Homo sapiens: one gene and its partners. The protein of the gene in region 3 interacts with the protein of the main gene of each other region in a biochemical or structural test. Each region holds a gene or a part of one and is shown on either strand. Other genes may lie near its edges.

Evidence for each region.
Region 1: the proteins of LIN7A (region 3) and KCNT2 interact in a test that uses a peptide from one of them, tested with the Homo sapiens proteins (one large-scale study listed by IntAct).
Region 2: the proteins of LIN7A (region 3) and TMEM225B interact in a test that uses a peptide from one of them, tested with the Homo sapiens proteins (one large-scale study listed by IntAct).
Region 4: the proteins of LIN7A (region 3) and HCN2 interact in a test that uses a peptide from one of them, tested with the Homo sapiens proteins (one large-scale study listed by IntAct).

What each region holds. Positions count from the first base shown.
Region 1 is NC_000001.11:196,339,441-196,342,940, forward strand, and holds part of KCNT2 (potassium channel subfamily T member 2), read right to left. Parts: intron 2,789-3,500; coding exon 2,639-2,788; intron 1,131-2,638; coding exon 901-1,130; intron 1-900. UniProt on the Homo sapiens protein: Sodium-activated and chloride-activated potassium channel. Produces rapidly activating outward rectifier K(+) currents. Contributes to regulate neuronal excitability.
Region 2 is NC_000007.14:99,608,267-99,611,545, reverse strand, and holds the end of TMEM225B (transmembrane protein 225B), read right to left. Parts: intron 1,154-3,279; coding exon 981-1,153; 3' UTR 501-980; downstream 1-500.
Region 3 is NC_000012.12:80,843,935-80,847,434, reverse strand, and holds part of LIN7A (protein lin-7 homolog A), read left to right. Parts: intron 1-1,495; coding exon 1,496-1,705; intron 1,706-3,500. UniProt on the Homo sapiens protein: Plays a role in establishing and maintaining the asymmetric distribution of channels and receptors at the plasma membrane of polarized cells.
Region 4 is NC_000019.10:610,381-613,880, forward strand, and holds part of HCN2 (potassium/sodium hyperpolarization-activated cyclic nucleotide-gated channel 2), read left to right. Parts: coding exon 1-25; exon of another isoform or gene 26-774; intron 775-2,498; exon of another isoform or gene 2,499-2,867; coding exon 2,868-3,108; intron 3,109-3,471; coding exon 3,472-3,500. UniProt on the Homo sapiens protein: Hyperpolarization-activated ion channel that is permeable to sodium and potassium ions. Displays lower selectivity for K(+) over Na(+) ions. Contributes to the native pacemaker currents in heart (If) and in neurons (Ih).

The sequences.
Region 1 (3,500 bases), on a different chromosome or scaffold from region 3:
CTCTGAAGTTGTTATCATGGAAGGTTCAAAATTACAAGTGTATGGTGCACACAGAGATATGAAGAGACACACACACACACAGAGAGAGAGAGAGAGAGAGAGAGAGAGAGAGACAGAGACACAGAGAGAGAGAGATCAGCCAGTGATTCTGAATAGAAAATGAAGTTAGGTAATGAGGAGGGATTAAAGAGTAAAGTCTCTGAGGAGGAACAAGGGCATGGTTCCTGGAATAAATGAATGTATCAGTATTAGTTAAAAATGACACATTTTCCTTGTGACAGATACTAAATGTTTGTAGGTTTGTAGATGGTTTGGAGGCCAAACCGTAAAGAAATTCTTATTTGCATGGAGGTATTTTTTCTTTTACCTTTCTTCTTCTGTGTCATAGAAGCCAAGTTCAGTGGTGAGAGTGAGGTAAGAGATGGAAAGAGAATTTTGAGAAAATGAAGAATATTTGAAATAGCCTCTCTTGATGATAATTACAAAGAGAACTTACAAAAGAAATATAAAAGTGTGTGGTGCTTTATATATAATGAGAAATATAAAATGATTGTTGATTGTGTTTTTGTAATATCTTAGATTGAGGTTTTTTTGGACACAGAGTCTTTTTCTGTTGCCCAGGCTGTTCTCAAACTCCTGGCTCAAGCAATTCTTCCACCTCAGCCTCTGGAATAGGTAGTATTATAGACATATGCCACCACAGTAGGCTAATATCTTACTTTTTAAAAAATTCACAACTTAGAACTGTTGTCCTGTATACCTAGTCATACCTAGTTTGTAAAATGCAGCATGTTTGAAATTTTCTTTAAACTTTTAATAAAAATTTAAATGCATTGGTATTTATCATTATTTTTTATTTTAGAAATAAATTAATGATATTTCAAATTTGTTTATACTTACCCATGCTGGCAATTATGCTATGTACAGGTAATCTGGAAGGTCCATGATAAAACGACCTGGACACATTGCTTTTTCTCTGCTGGTCTTGGTTTTTAAATGCTGAATTCTCTTCTTTGGTAATATTAATATAAAAGCATATGTCTGTAGAATTCATAATGTATCGAGGACCTGGATTCAGCAAAATGTTTTTATTATCCTCCCTCCTAACACCAATCAAGCAGACGCCAAACCTTAATTTAAAAAAAAAGAGAGTTTGTAAGAAAATTAGTAAATTATTGTAAGGCTGAGGAAAATAAAAGCTTTAAATAATAGCATTTTAAAGCTTGAAATGATCCTAGAAGTTCAAGATCCTCATTTTTACAGGAAAATAAACTATGTGCTTAGTGTGTTGTAAAACCAATTTAGCTGATTATGACCACTATAAATTTACATTTTAATGAAAATGAATGGAAGAACATAAGAAACATGAGTGCATGTATACACTAAGGGTAACATTATTTTGCGAATTTTTACAACAATTTTACTTTGGTCAAAAAACATAAACAGCATATCTTACTTTGGTTAAAAAAAATAAATAAAAAGCTTAAAACTATTGGCCAAAGGAAAGAAACTTACCCATGGTCACCTGAAAGAGAACCAGGGTCCCTGAATTTATCACAGTTGGTTTACTTTAAATTTTAGAAAAAATATATATATTTAAATAGTCTTAAATAGGTATGTACTTAGTCAGAAAAAAAAAGTAAAGTAGAATACAGAAGCTCCTTGACTTATAATAGAGTTATGTCCTGATAAACCCAGCATAAGTTGAAAATATTGTTAAATAAAAAATGCTTTTAATACAGCTAGCCTAACAAATATCATAGTTTTAACCTAGCCAACCTTAAACATACTCATAACACTTACATTGCCTACAGTTGGGCAAAATCATCTAATACCAAGCCTGTTTTATAATAAAGTGTTAAATATCTTATGTAATTTATTGAATATTCTACTGAAAGTGAAAAATAAAATGATTGTATGGATACTGGAAGTATGGTTTCTACTGAATGGCTATTGTTTTGTACCATCATGGTAAAAAAATAGTAAGTCAAAGCATCATAAGTTGGGGGTTCCTGTACATTACATAATAGATTAGTTAGTAGACTATATACGTATATTGTAAATCCTCCAAAATGTGTCACATTAAAACATTTAATACAGATAATATGTTATTTTCATTATATACATACATTTTTACTTCTTAAGTAAATCCTTTTTTTTTCCAAAAAGGAAAAGAAAAAAAAAGTTCTATGTTTGAATTGGAAGGTAGTTTTATTTATTTTTTAACTTATTTCTCAGGCCAAAACAAGGGCCACCATCAGAGATTTTTTTTTCAAATGTACAGTTTTTAGAAATATTAGTGTTACTTTGTTTTAGTTCCTAATCAACATCTTAAAATTCAGATCTGTGAAGAAGATTTTCATATGTATGTAAATTCTTAATGGATTAAAATATTTTAAAAAGACTTTAAAAGTGGCTAAATGAAATATTCCTACTAAATTATAATTTACTCCTGACTGTCTTATAGAGACCATACAGACACCAGGGTTCAAATGTTTCAACATTGGGGAATATTGTGACAAAAATTCCGGAATGCCTAAACACATGAACACAATATGCATTCTATTTTTGAAAACTATTTTCACATGATATGCTTGACTGATTGATATTTTAATTTTTCTCTGAGGCAGAAACATACTTTTTGTGTGCATGGAAAGAGGCATATGTAAAACTCTTTCCTTCATATTCAGCAAAAAATGTACTTTCTTCCAAAACAATGTGGTAGACTTCATTCCCGGAGCATCTACCGTACATCTTCTGCCATTGTTCTGGCGATTGCTGGCCTTCTCTGCAACACAGGCACACACACATACACACACACAAAAAGAAAACACAGTGAATGTGGTTAAAAAACAGTTGTTATAGAACTGTTTCTCAACTGTGTAAGAACTGGCAAGCACAATCCAAAGGAGCATCTGAGTAATGCTTTGAAGTCTGAAGATGACATTATATGCAAGAGTTTCTAAAAAATTTTGAATACTATATATATATATATATATATATATATGTATATATATATATATGCTTGAGAAATGACAGTTTTGTAGAAAGTGGGAGTTTTCCAAGATCCAGCTAATGAAAAGCTTTACTCTCACAATGAATCAATGAGATACAGGATTTTAGTCTCTCTTTATATACATATCCTATCATGTATATCTTCTAAAATTTGTTGTACAGTCTCCATAATATGGCCAACGTTATCTTACCTATGATACCTGCGTGGCTGCTGTAGGTATTTTATTTTGCTTTATACTTAAAATTACAAATTTATCTCAATTTATCTTTGATTTTATAGAAAATATACCTTTAGTTTTTGTTCATATCGTAGCAATAACTTTCTTCCAATTGTATAGCAGTCACGAAAAGACACTTTTCTTATTTTAAATGTAAGGATCTCTCCAACTAACTGAATATTCTTGTAACCACAAAATTCATGTTGGAATCCTAATCCCATTATGATGGTATTTGGGAGTGTGGCCTTTGAGAGGCAATTAGGTTAT
Region 2 (3,279 bases), on a different chromosome or scaffold from region 3:
TCACAATCTTCCTGCGCCCAAGCTATCACCAGACACCTGCAAGTTAGCTCACTGCAACACTGGCATTATCAGTACTGCACAAAGCCCTCTTCAGCATACAGCATAAACACTATGCCATCAAATCTCCAACAAGTCTTTGTTTCCTTTCAGTCAGCTCCTCTTCTGCTGGTCCTGCCTGTTGCTCCCTGGCAATGTACTTTTTTTTTTTTTGAGACGGAGTTTTGCTCTTGTTTCCCAGGCTGGAGTGCAATGGCGTGATCTCGGCTCACTGCAACCTCCACCTCCTGGGTTCAAGCAGTTCTCCTGCCTCAGCCTCCCGAGTAGCTGGGATTGCAGGCATGCACCACTACACCCGGCTAATTTTGTATTTTTAGTAGAGACGGGGTTTCTCCATGTTGATAAAGCTGGTCTTGAACTCCTGACCTCAGGTGATCCACCCGCCTCGGCCTCCCAAAGTGCTGGGATTATAGGCACGAGCCACCACGCCCAGCCCGGCAATGTACTTTTATACTTCCTTTAATAAATCTGCCTTTCTTTATCTACAACCGTCTTGGTAAATTCTTTTACCCCTGTGCCACCAGCCCAAATAGTTGTCATTCCCCCGAGTATATTCTGTATTCTGTACGGTTTCTGTTTCACAAAATCCCATTTCACTTGGTTATCTTGTAATATTCCTCCCTCCCCTCCTGCCCTGCGGACTTGGTTTTTGAGATATGGATGAACAAAGTAGCCCTTCTTTTTATTGAAAATACCTGCAAAAACGTCACTTAGGAAGCTCAGAAGAGTTGAAAGGACTTTTAGCAAATTTCACATACAAGCAAGATAGAATCACTGTGAGTATGGGGAGGTGGAGAGTTGATCTGACACGCAAGAAGCTCCTCAAAGGCACAGATACTGGCAGAGAGGGTGGGGAGGACTACAAACAGCTACATGTGTACACTCACATGGCTTGAAGAAGGGTAAAGAAGCCATGTCCTGGGCTAGATGACTGTTTCTGCTGTCACCTGTGTCTCCTTTTGTACTGAGCTCGGTTCTCCTCCCAAACTCTCCAGATTGTCCAGGTACAGGCTCCCGTGGTCCTCCTCCATACTCTGGGAAGTGGACAACAAGTGCCAGCAAGGGCAAACCATTTCTTGAATGAGGCAGATGGTACCTAGGGAACAGCCAACGTTTGGGTCAGGTCAGAGAAAGTCCAGAGCTCCACGCCCTAGAGGTCAGGTCCCTCTAGCTCCAGAGCTGCCCTCCCTCATTCTGCCCCCCAATCTAGAGTATTACAGAGAGAGATTACAGACAGGATGCGTCAAAGGACAAGAAGTACAAATACATGTATAAAATCACAGACCCATGGTCAGCACCTAGAAGACATCTCAGCAATCATGTAGCCCATTAATGGGTGAAAAAAAAAACTAAGGTTTAGAGAAAGGAAGTTCCAACACAAAACCCAGGCCCAACCCAAGACCTTCAGTGAAGTAAAAGATAGACAACTGACACGAATAAGAACAAACGAGGGATGGACGTGGTAGTTCACGCCTGTAATTCCAGTGCTTTGGGAAGCCGAGACAGGAGGGTCTTTTGAGCCCAGGAGTTCGAGACTCATCATGGGCGACATAGCAAGACCTCGTGTTTACCAAAAAAAAATTAAAATTAGCCAGGCATGATGGCATGAGCCTGAAGCCCCACTGACTTGGGAGGGTGAGGCAGGAAGATCACTTGAGCCCAGGAGGTCAAGGGTGCAGTGAGCTATGATCACACCACTGCCCTCCAGCCTGGGCGACAGAGCAAGACCTTGTCCCTTTAAAAAAAAGAACAAGTGGCCGGGCGCGGTGGCTCACACCTGTAATCCCAGCACTTTGGGAGGCCGAGGTGGGTGGATCACAAGGTCAGGAGTTCGAGACCAGCCTGGCCAACATGGTGAAACCCCATCTCTACTAAAAATATAAAAATTAGCCAGGCATGGTGGTGCATGCCTGTAGTCCCAGCTACTTGGGAGGCTGAGGCAGAATTGCTTGAACCCAGGAGACGGAGGTTGCAGTGAGCCGAGATCATGCCACTGCACTCCAGCCTGGGTGACAGAGCAAGACTCCATCTCGGGAACAAAAAGAGACAACAAATGGAGATATCTTGAGTAAATGATCAATGCTGTGTTAAGATGAAGACTAAGATAAAAGACATCTTCTATTTTCAGCATTATAGCAGACTACTCTACCACTAAAAGCCACAAAAATTTTAAATAAAATGTGAGAGAACTTCAAAGAATTCATGGAAATCATGGAAAAATGGAATTAAAAGGTTAAAATATAAAATATTGTAACTCTATTTGGTGAAGGGGAAATTAAGAAATAAAAGCTTAAATATGTGGTTTTTTGTTTGTTTGTTTTTTTGAGATGGAGTCCCGCTGTTGCCCAGGCTGGAGTGCAGTGGTGAGATCTCAGCTCACCGCAACCTCCACCTCCTGGGTTCAAGTGATTATCCTGCTTCAGCCTACTGAGTAGCTGGGATTACAGGCACGCACCACCATACCCAGCTAATTTTTGTATTTTTAGTAGAGATGGGTTTTCGCCATGTTGGCCAGGCTGGTCTTGAACTCCTAACCTCAGGTGGTCCACCTGCCTTGGCCTCCCGAAGTGCTGAGATGACAGGTGTGAGCCAGTGCACCTGGCCATATATACACATATATGTGTGTGTGTATATATATATATATATATACGTGCACACACACACATATATGTATGTCTATATACATATATACACACATACATATATATGTGCATATATAAATATGTGTGTGTGTGTGTGTGTGTGTGTGTGTGTATATATATATATATATATTTTTTTTTAACTAGCTGGCCATGGTGGCACATGCCTGTAGTTCCAGTGATTCAAGAGGCTGAGGCAGGAGGATCGCTTGAGCCCCAGAGTTGGAGGCTGCAGTTGTACCACTGCACTCCAACCTGGGCAACAAAGCAAGACCCTATCTCTTAAAAAAAAAAAAAAAAAAGGTAGAGACAGAAATAGATAGCCTAAGGAACCAGGATGGTGGAAGGGAGACTATAAAAATTTGAAAGAGTTTAGTTCTAAGTCAAGAAGGATAAGAACAGGAAGGCCAAGGATGGGGTTGAAGCTCCAGAGCAGTGCTGTCAGGTAGAACGTTCTGCAGAGAAGGAAATTTCTCTGTCTGCACTGTCCAATATGACAGTGTCCAATAGCCACTGGACATATGTGGTTATTGAACATCGGTGATGTGGCTAGTATGGCTGAGGAACTGAATTCATAACTTTT
Region 3 (3,500 bases):
TTTTAGTTTTTACTCTGTAACTGAACACTGTAGATTTGTAAGGTTTTTTTGTTTTGTTTTGTTTTGTTTAAACTCAGGGAAAAAAAGAGGGTGTTATTATCATCATGTCATGCTTTGCTTGTACTGAAGTGGAACACACACAGAAAAATGATCCCTACGTGGTTTAATTAAGGGGAAAGTGAATTGTGTAGTGTTTTACCATTCTCATTTCTTATTCATGTAGAACAGCAGGATAGCAGCATAATGTTGCAATAGCACAGTATTTTCTGGTTGTTTCTGGGCTGTCTGCATTGCATCCATGTCAGCCATTAAAATCTATGCATGACAATGAGGTTTGCATGAGCAAATGCATGTAGCTAAAAACAAGCCATTGTTTTCATGTCATTCACTATCTTTCACTAAATGCAGACAGTAGCATAATGCTAAATTGATGTGATAATGCTGTGTGTGGAAAAGAAGGTACAGTCGTTGGGAATAAATATTTTCACAGTGTTGAGTAAGTCACTTTATAGCAGGCATCTAATCAACTGTGATCAAGGTGAATTAATAAAAGTGAAAAATAAGCAGGCACAGAATCATTTCTTGATAGAAACTACCTAAGTGCTGTTATTTTATTTCTATGGGGTTAGTGGGAACTAATGGTAAGTTGTTTTCTTGAACTCATTTAATGAAATCAGTACATGAATTTTAAAACAAATTATGTCCATATTAAATGATGTTTTGTATATCTAGGTATAAAATCATTGACTTCATATTGCCTATTTTGTTATAATAATTGAAATATTAATGTATAATATAGGAAGAAAAATCCTGTTCCAGATAAGATTTCTCAGTATGGAATAATAATATGGTATATTGGTATAAGCTAACAATAATCTGTTTGAATCTATTATTTTATTTTAGTTTTCATTCTCTTTAAGGCATCCTTAATTTTTTAAAAAAGTTAAATTTGCTAAGCTTTTGGGTTGGCAATAGCAAGATTACATATGTATTCAAAAGTATGTATACATACAAGTGCTCTTCAATTTATTAAAAAAATACTTATGAACTTTTATGTGCAAGCACCAGATTAGACTCTGTGTCATACAAAAGAGTGCAAGACGCCATCTCTGCTCTTAAGGTGCTCATAGTCAACACATGTATAAAATAATTATAATAGTAGATAGTACATATAACAAAGTTATTTGGACTCCAGGAATAGGAAGAATTGCAGCTAACCAAGGTAACTGGAAAGGATTTTTATGAAGACAGGAAAATTCTGTCATAACAGATAAGCCCTAGGAAGCTGGAAATAGATGAGTGGGACTTTACCAAAGAAAGAAATCCTAGATGGCATCTAAATGAAGAAAGTCCTCTGCTTTTTGTGTTCTTTCTTTCACAGGAGAATACTATAAAAATATGAGAAGTTGCCTGAGCTACCCACTGCAAAGCATATGATTAGCCTTTATTTCCCTCATTTTATTACCAAAAGACCATCTTTTTTTTTTTTTTTCAGGCAACAGTTGCAGCTTTTGCAGCTAGTGAAGGCCACTCCCACCCTCGAGTAGTTGAACTGCCAAAGACTGATGAAGGCCTTGGTTTTAATGTGATGGGAGGAAAGGAGCAAAATTCCCCCATTTATATCTCTCGCATAATTCCTGGAGGGGTGGCTGAAAGACACGGAGGCCTCAAAAGAGGAGACCAGCTGCTATCAGTGAACGGAGTGGTATGTTTATAAAATAACCAGAGATTTTCTCCTTAAGCACATTCTTTTTTTTTGCCCCCTGCTATTACTGAAGTCAACGTTGAAAACCTAGAATAAATATTCATTTTATGTCTAACCAGCTTTCTAAGCATTGATGGATATTAAACCTATAAAAGCTGCAATCTAATTTTTATGTCTCATTTCATTATGTTCAGTTATGATAAATATCAGTGAGTTGAAAAAACATCCCAGGAAATTAATCCAACTAGCTGACTTTCTTCCCATAATACTCCAAGTAACATTTACAAGAATACAGTAATTTCAAGATACTTTTTATCCTAAGTTACTATAAGCAAATACATACATTTTAAGAATAAAGATATAGCTCCTTACTTTGTAATGTGTGTGGGTTTTTCATTTTAATTACAGAGGAAGGGTAATTTTAATGTTTATGTAATAATAACACATATGAAAAAGGCTAATGCACTCAAAATTTTTTTTTTTTTTTTTTTTTGAGATGGAATCTCACACTGTCCCCCAGGCTGGAGTGCAGTGGTGCCATCTCAGCTCACTGCAAGCTCCGCCTCCCGGGTTCACACCATTCTGCTGCCTCAGCCTCCCAAGTAGCTGGGACTACAGGCGCCCGCCACCAAGCCCGGTTAATTTTTGTATTTTTAGTAGAGATGAGGTTTCACCATGTTAGCCAGGATTGTCTCAATCTCCTGATCTCGTGATCCGCCTGCCTCGGCCTCCCAAAGTGCTGGGATTACAGGCGTGAACCATCGCGCCCGGCCTCAAAATTCTTGAAGCCAGATCTACAGCTATAGTATAATAAAAACATATTAGCCTTCCTCCAAAAAAGAGTTTGATTAAATTACCTATTCATAATATATGCTTTCGTTTTTAAATGAAATTAGAGTAAATTAAAATATGTAACATTTTAAAGTAAAAGTATGAATATACATTTTCTCATAACATATTCTCTGGATGCCACCACTTCCACTTGTAATAAGGAGTTGCTAAAGAAATTGTTTCCTATGAAACAAACATTTTCTCCCTATAACATCCACTTATATTAAACATAAATTACCTAAAAGCATACATTTCAGAAATATAAACAGAAACTTATCAATGTTACCTTTCGATTAACCTAAGATCTTTTTTCTAAGAACTTAAGGATTTTAATATATAAACTCGATTTCAGTTATTTGTGGCCAGATTGATTTATGCTTGGGACACAATATCCAAAATCAAATGTAATTGGAACATGATATTTTATTGGTAACTGTAGAATGAAATTCTTCTGTATTCATATCTTGAATTTTATTCATTTGTTTCTTATTTTTAGACTGACTAGTAGTTTCATAGAACCCAAAACTATTCCTTCAACTCTGCTGTCCTCTAATGTATATCAAAATTCTCAACCCATGAATATTTTCTATCACTTCAGCATTCCAATTACTACTTACTTTTTTCTATGTAATAATGTTTTGAGATAAGCTTTTTATTGACCTTTAGATAACTGTGACTTTTTCAAAGCATGTTTCAAGTGATAATTTCAGAGTCTAACTTTCTGGTAGAGGACTCTAGAGCTAGGTCACACAATTGCGTCACATAGAGGCTTATGCCCCAGAGTATGAACTTGCAATTTCTCTGAATATATTATATAAATCAAATAAGGTATAGATTTAAAAACAGTATGAAAAGTTTAAAAAATTTCAAAGTATATTAACAGTAATTATAATTGTGTAAAGTAAGAATATATATATATATAATAAATTTAATACGTGGTTGACTTTGAGCTTTCTTATAAGGG
Region 4 (3,500 bases), on a different chromosome or scaffold from region 3:
CGAGCTCAACGGGCCCCTGCGGGAGGTGAGGCGGGCGCCGGGCGGGCGGGAGGCAGCCTCCGGTACAGGGCCGGCCTCCCTCTCCTGGAGCCCAGGAGCCGGTCCCTGAGGGAGGCGAGGTGCCTAGGCTGCAGCAGGAGGGACTCGAGCTAGACCTGCGTACACACCCTCCCCTCCCCGCCCCGTGAGCCTCTGCACCCCCAGGACCCCCGCCACCCCCGCCTTGCTTCCCGCTGCCCCCTTAGCAGAACTGCCTGGGTCTGTGCCTGACAGGGCGGGGCAGAAGCAGGGCAGGGGGTGGGGAGGGAGGAGCCGCAGAGGCCCCGCTGAGCACCAGGTCCTGGGGGCACTGAGGCTGATTGGAGCGGGTTTAACTCCCAGCTCTGTTCCGGTAGCCTGAGTGACCCTGGGCAAGTTTCCCAGGGTTGCGGGAACAAATACCCACAGGCTGAGTGGCTTGAACAGCGGAGATTCGGCCTCCCACCGTCCTGGAGGCCGGAAGCCCAACATCAAGGCGTGGGCCGGGCCGTGCTACCCCCCCGGAGCCCCTGGGGAGGATCCTTCCTGCCTCTTCCGGCGTCTGGGGCTCCAGGCGCCCTTGGCTTGCAGATTGATCTCCCTGATCTCTGCCTCCATCTGCTCACAGCCTTCTCCCCTGTGTGTCTCTGTCTCTTCTTGTAAATTCATCCGTCGTTGGATCAGGGCCCACCCGGTTCCTCGTGGCCTCGCCTTAACTGGGCCATGTCTGCAGAGACCCTATTTCCACATAAGGTCCTATTCACAGGAACCGGGGGTCAGGATGTCAGCCTGTCTTTCTGGGAGATGTAGTTCAACCCACAACACACATCAAACAGTTATTGAGCGCCGACTGCGTGCCCTGCCGTGTGCTTGAAGGTCCCACCCTCAGGAAGCGGGGCCTAGGGATGGCGGCCGTGATCACGCAGGCAGCAGAGAGCAGCTCTGGGAAGCGGGGAGGGACGAGGACGGGGAGGCGACATCAGCAAGGCCGTGTGTGAGCCAGGCAGGGTGTCCCCGGTGTAGCACCTGGCTCGGGCAGAGGCCCCGAGGAGGGGCTGGAGGAGCTGGGCGAGGAGGCGGGCAGGACGGGCCTGACACTAGGGACCTCGGGCCCCGGGAATGCCTCTGGGGGGGCGTGTACACCCGTTGCTCCCAGGAGGCACACACTGCGGTTCGCTTCGCCAAGAATGTTTAATTGCATTTGATGACTACGGTTTCCATTCATTCATTTGTAGAGATATAACACTCAGACCACAAAATGCATAAAATGCGGTGGCTTTTAGTATTAACAGAGTGCTGCACCCGATACCACAGCCTCACTCCAGAACATTCTCATGGGCCCAAAAGGAGACCTGGGGTGTTAGTCACCAGCTCACTCCCCGTCCCCAGCCCCTGGCAACCCACGCTACTTAGTCATTATTTAGGTGTTTAGGAGTTGCAAAGTCAAATCTTTAAACCCACATATGGCCAGGCGTGGTGGCTCACGCCTGTAATCCCAGCACTTTCAGAGGCCGAGACGGGCAGATCACCTGAGGTCAGGAGTTCGAGACCAGCCTGGCCAACATGGTGAAGCCCCGTCTCCACTAAAAATACAAAATTAGCCGGGCGTGGTGGTGGGCGCCTGTAATCCCAGCTACTCTGGAGGCTGAGACAGGAGAATCGCTTGAACCCAGGAGGCGGCGGTTGCAGTGAGCCGAGATTGTGCCACTGCACTCCAGCCTGGACAACAGAGCGAGACTCCGTCTCAAAAAAAAAAAAAGTACCAAAAAGTGCCCCAGGTCATAAGGGCACAGCTCGATAGCTGGTCCCTAAAGGGAACGTGGTGTAACCACCACACAGAACGAAGCTGGAACGTTCCTGCCGTCCTTAGAAGCTGCCTTTGCTAAGGGGAATTGCCCTGACTTCCCACACCATTGATTCATCTCCAGACCCTTGGTTTTCATGTTGATTTTTCAAAAATCACCTGATAGTCTGACCGAATGTAGCTTTCCACTGGTGTGTGTGTGTGTGTGTGTGTGTGTGTGTGTGTGAGAGAGAGATGGAGTCTCGCTCTGTCACCCGGGCTCCAGTGCAGTTGTGTGATCTTGGTTCACTGTAACCTCCTCCTCCCGGGTTCAAGAGACTCGTGCCTCAGCCTCCCGAGTAGCTGGGATTACAGGCACCCGCCACCACACCCAGCTAATTTTTTGTATTTTTAGTAGAGATGGGGTTTCACCATGTTGGCCAGGCTGGTCTCGAACTCCTGACATCAGGCGATCCACCCACCTTGGCCTCCCAGAGTGCTGGGATTACAGGTGTGAGCCACCACGCCCGGCCTTATTTTTCCCCCATTTTCTTTTTTTTTTTTTTTGAGTCAGGGTCTTGTTCTGCGCTCAGGCTGGAGGGCAGTGGTGTGGGGATCACGGCTCACTGCAGCCTCGACTTCCTGCACCACCACGCCTGGCTGTTTTTTTTTTTTCCGGTAGAGACGGGGGTCTTACCGTGTTGCCCAGGCTGGTCTAGAACTCCTGGGCTCAAGCGATCCTCCCGCCTCGGCCTCCGCAAATGCTGAGATCACACGCGTGAGCCCCCGCACCCGGCCTCCTTTCCACCGCTCTTGTCTACAGCCGCCCCTCCTGGTCCGATTGTATTGGCAGATGTCGCCAATACGGTGTCAAACGGCGAAGGGGCACTGAGCGTTTTTTCTTTCTCCCGTCCTTGGCGGCAGCAGCTCGGTTCCGGCTACGGGGCTGAGCCCGTCTCTCAGACGAGGAAACTGGGGTCCGAGAGGTGAGCCGGTCCCAGAGGCAGGGCGAGGGGGAAGCGGGAGTGGGGTCCGCAGCGGACCCAGCCCTGCCTCCCCCCTGCAGGAGATCGTCAACTTCAACTGCCGGAAGCTGGTGGCCTCCATGCCGCTGTTCGCCAACGCCGACCCCAACTTCGTCACGGCCATGCTGACCAAGCTCAAGTTCGAGGTCTTCCAGCCGGGTGACTACATCATCCGCGAAGGCACCATCGGGAAGAAGATGTACTTCATCCAGCACGGCGTGGTCAGCGTGCTCACTAAGGGCAACAAGGAGATGAAGCTGTCCGATGGCTCCTACTTCGGGGGTGAGCTTGAGGGGGGCGCGCCTGGAGGGGGAGGGGGCACGCGACCCCCGCGGTGTGCAGAGCCAGGGGGCCGGGGCCGGGGCCGGGGCCGGGGATGGGGATGGGGATGGGGATGGGGCCGGGGATGGGGATGGGGATGGGGATGGGGCCGGGGATGGGGATGGGGATGGGGCCGGGGATGGGGATGGGGCCGGGGATGGGGCCGGGGATGGGGCCGGGGATGGGGCCGGGGCCGGCACCAGGGAGAGCCTGGGTGGGAAGCGCCCACGCTGGCCAAGGTGCAGAGGCCGGGCCGTGTGCCTGGGCGGGGAGGGCCGCGGCGCCCGCCTCGTCCAGCAACCCCCCCCTGCGCGCCACGTGCAGAGATCTGCCTGCTCACCCGGGGCCGCCGC